Regions from separate parts of the Homo sapiens genome. Here region 1 is linked to region 2. Evidence: fine-mapped expression QTL. Tissue or cell type: whole blood. Region 2 holds a variant in brackets; the other region holds the start of a gene. All regions are shown on one strand. Distances are from middle to middle.

Region 1 (5,147 bases), 38 kb before region 2:
TGCGTACCACCACACCCAGCTAATTTTTGTATTTTTAGTAGAGACGGGGTTTCGCCATGTTGGCCAGGCTGGTCTCGAACTCCTGACCTTGTGATCCACCTGCCTCGGTCTCCCAAAGTGCTGGGATTACAGGCGTGAGCCACCGCGCCTGGCAAGCCACCATTTTTCAAATGGCCTCTTCCCCAATCTTTTTATGATCACTTCAGTCCTGGGAGAAACCAAGGCTCAGGATGGACTGGGGCAGCTCCAAACCCTTCCAATAAGGAAGGTCCCAGGCACCTAGGGCCACAAAGAGCAAGTCGCAGAACTTTGTCGCAGAACTTCTCGCTCGAGAGGATTAAAATGGGTCTGGTCGGGTGCCTGTAGTCCCAGCTACTTGGGAGGCTGAGGCAGGAGAATTGTTTGAACCTGGGAGGCAGAGGTTGCAGTGAACAGAGATCATGCCACTGCAGTCCAGCCTGGGAAACAGAGCGAGACTCCATCTCATAGATAGATAGATAGATAGATAGATAGATAGATAGATAGATAGATAGATGATAGATAGATAAGATAGATAGATAGCCTGGTGTGGGTGGCCTATGGCTGTATTCTATGTTACTTGTCGGTCCACCTCTTCCTCCTGTTCCCCGCTTCTGTGGGTTGCCAGGGTCCAGCACAGTGATGTGAATTTCACCGGAGAATCACCAGAGGGTTAGAGAGATGGACCAGGGCAGGGCCCAAGGGAAAGGCTGCCCAGGAGGGGTCAGGACCAGCAAGATACGAGAGGAGTGAAGTGGCGTAGGTTGAAAGGCGGAAGGGCGGGCCCCTAAGGCTGGGTCCAAACGAGGAGGCTGCGGAAGGGAAAGTGTTATTGGACTGGGCAGAGCAGCTGGTGGGCCCGACGGATAGACATACACTGCCAGCCCGGAGTGGAAAGAACAGTTTGTGCTGTGCTTTATTAAAATGTGCATCATTCTTTTATTTTAAAATGTGCATCATTGTCTCGTGCTCGGCGCATGCGACCTCAGCGTGGTGGCCCGCTGGGGGCCTCGTTCCCGCCCAGCTCCCGCGGAGCCGCAGGGAGCAGGCGCACTCACGTGGCGCGGGCCCGGGGGCTCCCGCCCATGGCGAGGTAGACGTCGATGGGCACGTGCAGCAGCGTCAGGCAGTGGCATCCAGGGCAGCGACGAAGCGGCCTGGGGAAATTGACGCGCGACAGGGGCCGCTGAGGCAGGGGCTTGGCCCATCCTGTGGGGCGCACCCAGGGAGTGCACCTGGGGTCCCCGGGGGTCCGGACGTGGATGCGGGGTCCTGACTGCTGGGGGCGCCAAGTGGGACGGAGGGCGGGGCCGCGGGACGGGCGGAGGCGGGGGTGGGGCGCGGGCCTTACCTGACCGGGTTGTGCTCCGTCGCTACCGCCTCCGGGCTGTCCTGGGACTCGGGGGCGGCGGCAAGGCCACGGGAGTCTCCGGCCTCAATGGGGAATCTCCGACCCTGCGGGGGCTCCTGGGCGCTCATGTCCAAGCCCCGGGGCGCTCTGCGCGGGGAGTGGCGGTCAGGCCTCTCCCGGGTCGCCGGGCGCCGCCGCCTCGCGCCCGCCCCCTGGGCCGTCGCTCACCTCCCGGCGGTTGAGACCGGTCCCAGGCTAGAAGCAGCTGCCGGAGCCCTGGCCGCGGGAGAACGCTCCGGTCCAGGCGGAGCCGGGCAGGTCTCTGTGGCGTGCCCGGGCCCGGGCGTCGAGGAGGGCAGCATTGTGACCCGGGCCGCGGCGCGCTGACCTCACAGAGCACGTTCCTCCCACTGGAGAACCCCCAACGGTGCCCCCTGCCGCCCCTGGCACTCAGCGCGGGCCAGAATCGGGGACTGGAGGCCTCTGGCCATGGCGCCTGGAGACGGGGTCGCGCAGACCCCGGACACCCGAGGGGGGCGCAGCAGGCCAGGGCAACCCGCCGCGAGGCGGCGTCCACGCCGAGGAGCCGCGCATTCCCGGTCCACACAGACGCGGCGGAGCGCCCTCCCAGGCGGGACTACAACTCAATGCCTGGCACGGGGGCGGGCTCGGCGGTGACTTAATCCGGGCTGAGTTTGGTGGTGGTAGTGAGGGCAGGTAGGGGCACTGCCCATTTTGGCCAAGGGTCACACAGCATCTACATCACAATTGCACCGGAGTTTAAAAATGTCTGGCCCTGTCCCTCCCCACCACCCGCCGCTGTGTCCAGACAGAGAATGTTCTAACGCTGGGGGCGGCTGCGGATGAAGTCCTTGGGGAGAAAAGGAGCAGGCCAAGGGCGATGGTGGAGTAGAGCTGCCTCTCAGAGGCAGCATGAGCTGAGAGGGTGATAGGAAGGCGGCGCTAGACAGCATGGAGGACTTTCTGCTCTCCAATGGGTACCAGCTGGGCAAGACCATTGGGGAAGGGACCTACTCAAAAGTCAAAGAAGCATTTTCCAAAAAACACCAAAGAAAAGTGGCAATTAAAGTTATAGACAAGATGGGAGGGCCAGAAGGTGAGCCGGGGCCCCTTTGGAGGGAAGGAGGGAGGACTGGCTGAGGTGGGTGGGTGCTTCCTCCTGTTTGTTAGAACGATCATTCGATCATTCCCTGCTCCCGCTGGCCTGGAACCAAGCAAGCCCGATGGCAGCTCTGGAGTGGGTCAGTGGGGAACAGAGGGGTTCTGGGAGTCCAGGAACATTACACCCCCCCAGAATGCAAGATGAAAGTGGCATGAGGTGAAGGATCCTCAGAGGCAAAACCTGAGCCAGGCTTTCCTTTCCGGCAGGGGAACAGAGACTGGCAGAGGCCACAACCAGGGCTGGTAGAGAACAGGGGCTGGTGCCAAGGCCCGTGGAGATGGGAAAAAGGAAGACAGGGCTCATGGAAAGAATTGTGGGGTCAGGGGACAGTGGCGGGAGGAGCTGGCTCACCACCCTGTGGACAAATCAGGCCTTATAATTTGTGATTCTGTGGCTTTGTCTAAAAGTCCCTAAAGCACCTTGATATCCAGTCTCACAGACTGCTCACAACAGTCCACAAGGCTGGTGGGGAGTGCTTCTTTTGAATGATATACTAACGACAAAAATAATAGAAGTGAACATTCTTTGCAATGTCCAAGCAGCTAGACACACTTAAGACCATTAAGAAAGCCAAGAAATAAGACCCAGACAAGGTGGGCAGAAGTTGGAAGGCAGGAGACAGGTGTGAGGAGGTGGGCCTTTCTGATCTGCCAGCCCATCTCTCCTCCCCTTACTTCCTCAGAGTTTATCCAGAGATTCCTCCCTCGGGAGCTCCAAATCGTCCGTACCCTGGACCACAAGAACATCATCCAGGTGTATGAGATGCTGGAGTCTGCCGACGGGAAAATCTGCCTGGTGATGGAGCTCGCTGAGGGAGGGGATGTCTTTGACTGCGTGCTGAATGGGGGGCCACTGCCTGAAAGCCGGGCCAAGGCCCTCTTCCGTCAGATGGTTGAGGCCATCCGCTACTGCCATGGCTGTGGTGTGGCCCACCGGGACCTCAAATGTGAGAACGCCTTGTTGCAGGGCTTCAACCTGAAGCTGACTGACTTTGGCTTTGCCAAGGTGTTGCCCAAGTCACACCGGGAGCTGAGCCAGACCTTCTGCGGCAGTACAGCCTATGCTGCCCCCGAGGTGCTGCAGGGCATTCCCCACGATAGCAAAAAAGGTGATGTCTGGAGCATGGGTGTGGTCCTGTATGTCATGCTCTGTGCCAGCCTACCTTTTGACGACACAGACATCCCCAAGATGCTGTGGCAGCAGCAGAAGGGGGTGTCCTTCCCCACTCATCTGAGCATCTCGGCCGATTGCCAGGACCTGCTCAAGAGGCTCCTGGAACCCGATATGATCCTCCGGCCTTCAATTGAAGAAGTTAGTTGGCATCCATGGCTAGCAAGCACTTGATAAAAGCAATGGCAAGTGCTCTCCAATAAAGTAGGGGGAGAAAGCAAACCCAAAAACCCGCTTCTAAAATGGTGATATATATTTTACGCTTTAAGTTTACTTATCCTAAAACTTACCTACATCTACCCCAGCCTTACTACTACTCTTTCCTTTTAGAGATCTTCATGGAATCAAAGGGCCTCATTCAGACTTCCTTTTTTTTTTTTAAGAGTCTTGCTCTGTCGCCCAGGCTGGAATGCAGTGGCACGATTCCAGTTCACTGCAACTCTGCTTCCCAGGTTCAAGCGATTCTCCTGCCTCAGCCTCCCCAGTAGCTGGGATTACAGGCACCTCCCACCACGCCTGGCTATTTCTGTATTTTTAGTAGAGATGGGGTTTCACCATGTTGGCCAGGCTGGTCTGGAACTCCTGACCTTAGTGATCCACCCACCTTGGCCTCCCAAAATGTTGGGATTACAGGCATGAGCCACTGCGCCTGGCATGACAAGTGATTTTCATACTAAAGTTAATTAAAATAGACCCAAGAATCATATACAAACAGGGGGAAGAGAGGATAAAAATGACCAAGAGCAACTGAAGCCATTCTTGTTGCAACTTCCTTTCCAAAGGAAAGCAGAGGCACTGGGAGTGCAGAGATGGCCTCCCGACTCCTTGTCCCAGTGAGAGGCCTGTTGCGAGCCCTGACCCTTTCTCATCCCAAAGGCAAAGCTGAATCTGGGATGAGGACAAGGTACGTCCTCTGGACCTAGGCTATCCCCCTACCCTGTCTCTGGCTCCAAGTGGGAAGCCAGTCCTGCCCTGGCCCAGTGCAGCTGCCAAGGGGACAAAAACAGACCCCCAGACACCTTTCAGCTTCGGGTGAATCACTTTAATGCTGTTAACGGCAAGTCTGTAAAAGGTTCAGGACAAAGTTCTTTTTTCTTTCTTTTTTAATTATAAAACTAACAGCTGTTAGAATCTTTTTTTCTTTTTTTCCTTTTTTCTTTTCCCAGCTACAAAATACTCTGGGGAGATGCATTATAATTTAAAATATATAATATTGCACAAACAACCAAAAGGTTAATTAAACTAAAGAAATAATTACAAAGAGAAAAACCCCATCCCGTCAAAAAAAAGATTCAGCATTCTCTCCATCCCACCCCCTCACTGAAGGTTTGAAGTGGAAGTGACCTCACTCTCTCGGTGTCCCTGACCCACGATCCCTTTCACTCATTGGTGAGCACACCAGATTAGGTACAAGAATCACCAGAG
Region 2 (5,147 bases):
ATGCTCTGCTAATTTTTGTATTTTTAGTGGAGACAGGTTTTCACCATGTTAGTCAGGCTGGTCTTGAACTCCTGACCTTGGGCGATCCACCCACCTCGTCCTCCCAAAGTGCCAGGATTACAGGTATGAGCCACCATACCCAGCCCTGGCTAATTTTTTGAGGTTGAGGCTGCAGTGAGCTGTGACCATGCCACTACATTACTGCCTGTGCAATGGAGAGACCTTGTCTTTAAAACAAAGAAAAACATGTGTGTGTGTGTGTGTATATATATATATATGTATATGTATATACATGCCAGATTACAGCCTTCCTCTGCCCAAAGTTCTGCAATGTCCTCTTATTTCACTCAGAGAAAAAGCCAATAAGTCCTCACAGTCTCCTTTAAGGCCCCGTATAGTTGATCTGACCTCACATTACTGGCCCCCTTAGTCACTCTGCTCCAGACACATTGGCTACTTTGATATTCCCTGAAAATTCCCGGGACTCTCCTGACTTGGGGCCTTTCAACTTGCTGTTCCTTTTGTTTAGACTGCACTTACCTCCAGATATTTATGTGCTTCTAACTTTCACCTCATTCAGATCTTTACTTGAATATAATCTTCTTACTCACCCTGACCACATTATTTAAAATCACAAGTTGCATAACAAGCACCCCCATTTCTCTTCTCTGACATATTGTATATTATACTTTGTTTAAAAAATTGTTTGCCTCCTTCAGACTAGAAATGCAACCTCAATGAAGGCAGGATTTTTGTCTGTCTTGTTCACTTGTCTACGGCTAGCACCTACAACAGTGTTTGGTACATAATAGACACTCAATATTTGTTCAGTGAATGAAAGAATAAATGCAAGGAGAGTGAGGACAAAGACAGGACTAATTTAGAGCAATCTGGAATAGCTAAAAAGAAAAAGGAAAAGAGAGGATGGACGTGAGGCTGTAAAGGTCATTAACATCTCGATTCTTGAGAGCCTTGAATGCAGGACTTAAAATTCATGGACAGAGGAGAGTCACCAAAGGTTTGGAATAAGGAAATGATTTGTGTTGTGAAGATGATGTGATCAAATGATTGAATGCTACTGTTAACAGATCTAACGGTGCCATTGGGGTGAGCACTTTATACAGTGTACCTTCCCAAAAGCTCAATGAGGTGGGAACTATTTTTAATCTACATTTTATAAATGAAGAAGGTGACCAGGCACGGTGACTCATGTAATCCCAGCATTTTGGGAGGCTGAGATGGAAGGATTGCTTGAGCCCAGAAGTTTGAGACCAGTATGGGCAACATAATGGCACCCTATCTCTATTATTATTATTATTATTTTGAGACAGTTTCACTGTGTCGCCCAGGCTGGAGTGCGGTGGTGCAATCTTGGCTTACTGCGACCTCAGCCTCCCAGGTTCAAGCGATTCTCCTGCCTCAACCTCCTGAGTAGCTGGGATTACAGGCGTGCACCACCACACCCAGCTAATTTTTGTATTTTTAGTAGAGACAGGGTTTCGCCATGTTGGCCTGGCTGGTCTTGAACTGCTGACCTCAGGTGATCCGCCTGCCTCAGCCTCCCAAAGTGCTGGGATTACAGGCATGAGCCACTGTGCCCGGCCTCTATTATTTTTTTTTAAATAAAAGTGAAAAAGCTAAGATTCTGAGATATGGGGTGACTTTCTCAAGGTAACACAGCTAGGAAATGGCAGAACTCGGATTTGAACCCAAGGCTGTCTAATAAAATCAAGCTTCTGTGCATTTCATGCTAGTCTTAACTTCTTCCAACCTTATGTCCTGCCTCCCCACCCAGATGATAGCTGCAGGCATCCTGTCCTTCGTTATCTTCACCTTGTCTCATTCCTCACCCCCAGGCCCAGCAGAGTGCTCGCCCATGATGTCCCTAGTGACTGTGGATTCAGTGGGACCCTTTGCTTGGGTTTCTTTGGTCTTCCTTATCTGTTCACCCCAGTACCTTGACCGTTGGCTCCTTTCACTGCCATAACCTCTGGCATCAAACATATTCATCCTTTTTTTTTTTTTTTTTTTGAGGCAGGTCTCACTCTGTCACCCCAGCTGGACTGCACTAGCATGATCATGGCTCACTGCAGCCTCAGCCTTCTAGGCTCAAGTGATCCTCCTGCCTCAGCCTCCTGAGTAGCTGGGACCACAGGCATGTGCCACCATGCCTAATTTAATTTTTTTTTTTTTTGTAGAGATGGAGTCTTGCTATGTTGCCTAGGCTGGTCTACGAACCCCTAGGATCTAGCGATCCACCTGCTTTGGCTTTCCAAAGTATTGGGATTACAGGCATAAACCACTGTGCCCGGCCAATGTCTTCATCCTTAACATTGGGATACTAATTCTGGTTGTTGTAATGACTAAAGAAAATAAATAAAACACCTAGCACATTGCAAGGCATAAAGTCCTCATGTAGGGATTATGATTGTCTTACCTCCTTACCCCTGTCCTCAGAGCCTCATACAATGCTAGGCGCTGGTAGAGGGCTAATGGACATCTGTTGAGTTAAACAGTATGTTGAAAGAACACTGGTTTGGGAGTCAGCAGAGCTAGATTTTAATACTGGTTTATGGGCAGTTGTCACTTTTTCTCTCTGAAATTCAGTTTTTTCACTGTCCTTGGGGCCTCTACAGTCTCCTGCAGCTCTTAGGCAAAGTATGAATGCAGGTAAATCCCACACCCTCAGACCCTCCTTTGACTCAAATCCCCCCTCTGACACTGCTGGACCCCTTTTGGCAGATGATTTTTTTCCTACTCCCCCTACCCACCCCATTAGAATTGGCAGGTGATTCTTATCCCAGGATCCTGGCTTTTGCTCCCAAGGAGCCCTGACACCCAGGTGCCACCAGATGGTGCTGTGGACTCATTCTTCACGGGAAGCTGGCTCCCGGGCTCCCCGGCTCCCTATCTCCCCGGCTCCTAGGAGAGGCCTTCTGGCTCCTCTGGACAGGGTGG[G/A]GTTCCTCCGTGGAAGGCTGCTAGGCCTGGGATAATCCTGGGAGGTGACTCAAGCCTTTCAGAAATTTCCAAGGCCCAAGCCCGCCCTCGGTTTGGCGTGCAGATTCCAGCATAGAGTTGGCAGGAGGACTGGCTGCGTAATTTGTAGAACCCAGTGTAAGACCAAAATGCCTAAGTTACTGATGCAGGCAGCACAGGGAATGCCTAAAAGCCCATGGACTGGTTCTAGTTCAGCCCTCTAGAGCTGATTGTTAACATTTCAGGAATTTTGGCCGGGTGTGGTGGCTCACGCCTGTAGTCTCAGCTACCTGGGAGGCTGAGGCAGCAGAATCACTTCAGCCTGAGAGGCAGAGGTTGCAGTGAGCAGGGATCGAGCCACTGCACTCCACCCTGGGTGACAGAGGGAGACCCTGTCTCAAAAAAAAAAAAAAAGAAAGAAAAAGAAAAAAAGGAATTTTAAAAGCTGGTTGTTGAACACGGACATTATTTAATTAAATTTTATAAACTTACCATTAAATAAGTTATAGAGCTGGGTGTGGTGGCTCACACCTATAATCGCAACTTTTCAGGCGGCTGAAGCAGGATGATCGCTTGAGCCCAGGAGTTCAAGGTTACAGCGAGGTATGATTACACTATTGTACTCCAGCCTGGGTGACAGAGCAAGAGCTCATTTCTAAAAAATAAATAAATAAAATAAAAACAAAGGTAATAAATAACCCAAACTCATCACTATGTAATTACTTTTATATATTTCACTATCATTTATGCTCACTTTACTTTTTTTGGCTGGGTACAGGGGACTTTATTGATGGTACATGACAAAGTGCGGTCTCATAGTCCCCTCCCATTCTTCAGGGAGCCTGGCATGGAAACAGTGTTCAGGAGGGGGAGATTCTCAGTGTGGTGGGGGACTGAGTTTGGCAGGGACTCCCCAGCAGCTGAGGGCCTCTCTTCTTCTCGTGCTGTCACTGGGGCTGGTGGTTCAGAGGGCCCTTACTCCTAGGAGGCCATGTAGACCATAAGGTATATCGTTCTGTTGCTGTAGCCAAATTCATTGTCATATCAGGAAATGAGCTTGACAAAGTGGTCTTTGAGGGCAATGCCATTCCCAGCATTGAAGGTGGAAAAGGTGGGTGTCTCTGTTAAAGTTGGAGGAGGCAACCTGGTGCTCTGTGTAGCTCAGGAGGCCCTTGAGGGTGGCCTCCGATGCCAGTTTCACCACCTTCTTGATGTCATCATATTTGGGCAGCTCTCTCCAGATGGCAGATCAGGTCTACAACCCACATGTTGGCAGTGGAGACATGGAAGGCCATGCCAGTGGGCTTTCTGTTAAGCTCAGGGATGGCCTTGCCCACAGCCTTGGTAGAGTGGGTAAATGCAGGGATGATGTCCTGGAGAGTCCTGTGGCCATCACGCCACAGTTTCCCAGAGAGGCCATCCACAGTCTTCTGGGTGGCAATATTGGCACCAACTGTGGCCATGAGTCCCTCCATGATGCCAAAGTTGTCATGGATGACCTTGGGCAGGGCAGCTAAACAATTGGCAGTACAGGAAGCGTTGCTGACAATCACAAGGTTGTTTTCATACTTCTCAAGGTTCACGGCCATCACAAACATGGGGGCATCAACAGAGAGAGCAGATATGACCCTTTTGGTTGCACCCTCTAAGTGAGCCCCAGCCTTCTCCAAGGCAGTGAAGATGCCAGTGGACTTCATAACATAATCAGCGTCAGGACCAGCCCATTTGATTTTGATGGGATTTTGTTCCTGGAAGATGGTGATGGGATTTCCATTGGTGACAAACTTCTTGTTCTTAGCCTTGATGGTGCCTTGGAACTTGTCATGGGTGGAGTCATACTAGAACATGTAGACCATGGAGTTGACCTGAATGAAGTGGTCATAGATGGTGACACTATCCACTTTGCTAGAGTTAAAAGCAGCCCTGGTAAACAGGCTTCCAATATGGTCCCATCTATTTACTCTGGCCTTCACTCACACCATGATGTCTCAAGGCTGCTGCTGGTGCTACACGAGATGTGTCTGTATGTTGTATGGCAAGAGCAGAGAGCTCATCTGTGTTCTTGAAGTAACTTACATTTATTGTATCTATATGGTGGAAATACTATATAATAGTGTACTTTTTTTTTTTTTTGAGACGGAGTTTCACTTTTGTTGCCCAGGCTGGAGGGC

The links. PIP is the estimated chance that this variant, and not a neighbour inherited with it, causes the effect.
Region 1: it holds the start of FAM229A, and the variant in region 2 is fine-mapped to the expression of FAM229A in whole blood (INTERVAL, PIP 0.99).

What each region holds. Positions count from the first base shown.
Region 1 is chr1:32,360,361-32,365,507 of GRCh38, forward strand. FAM229A (family with sequence similarity 229 member A) reads right to left here and starts at 2,125. Exons shown (of 3, transcript NM_001167676.2): 1 at 1,598-2,125; 2 at 1,370-1,516; 3 at 910-1,175. The coding sequence starts at 1,731. The coding sequence ends at 1,073. It overlaps TSSK3 (testis specific serine kinase 3), which reads left to right and starts at 2,179. Exons shown (of 2, transcript NM_052841.4): 1 at 2,179-2,486; 2 at 3,235-3,952. The coding sequence starts at 2,342. The coding sequence ends at 3,896. BSDC1 (BSD domain containing 1) reads right to left here. Exons shown (of 11, transcript NM_018045.8): 11 at 4,273-5,147. LOC124903933 (a long non-coding RNA gene) reads left to right here. Exons shown (of 3, transcript XR_007065642.1): 3 at 1-968. RefSeq lists silencers at 1,407-1,706, 1,857-2,056.
Region 2 is chr1:32,398,158-32,403,304 of GRCh38, forward strand. It overlaps the pseudogene GAPDHP20. Among named protein-coding and RNA genes, the nearest start is that of BSDC1, 6.3 kb to the left of the region's middle. RefSeq lists an enhancer at 2,636-2,755. The variant G/A (reference allele first, on the strand shown) is at 2,959.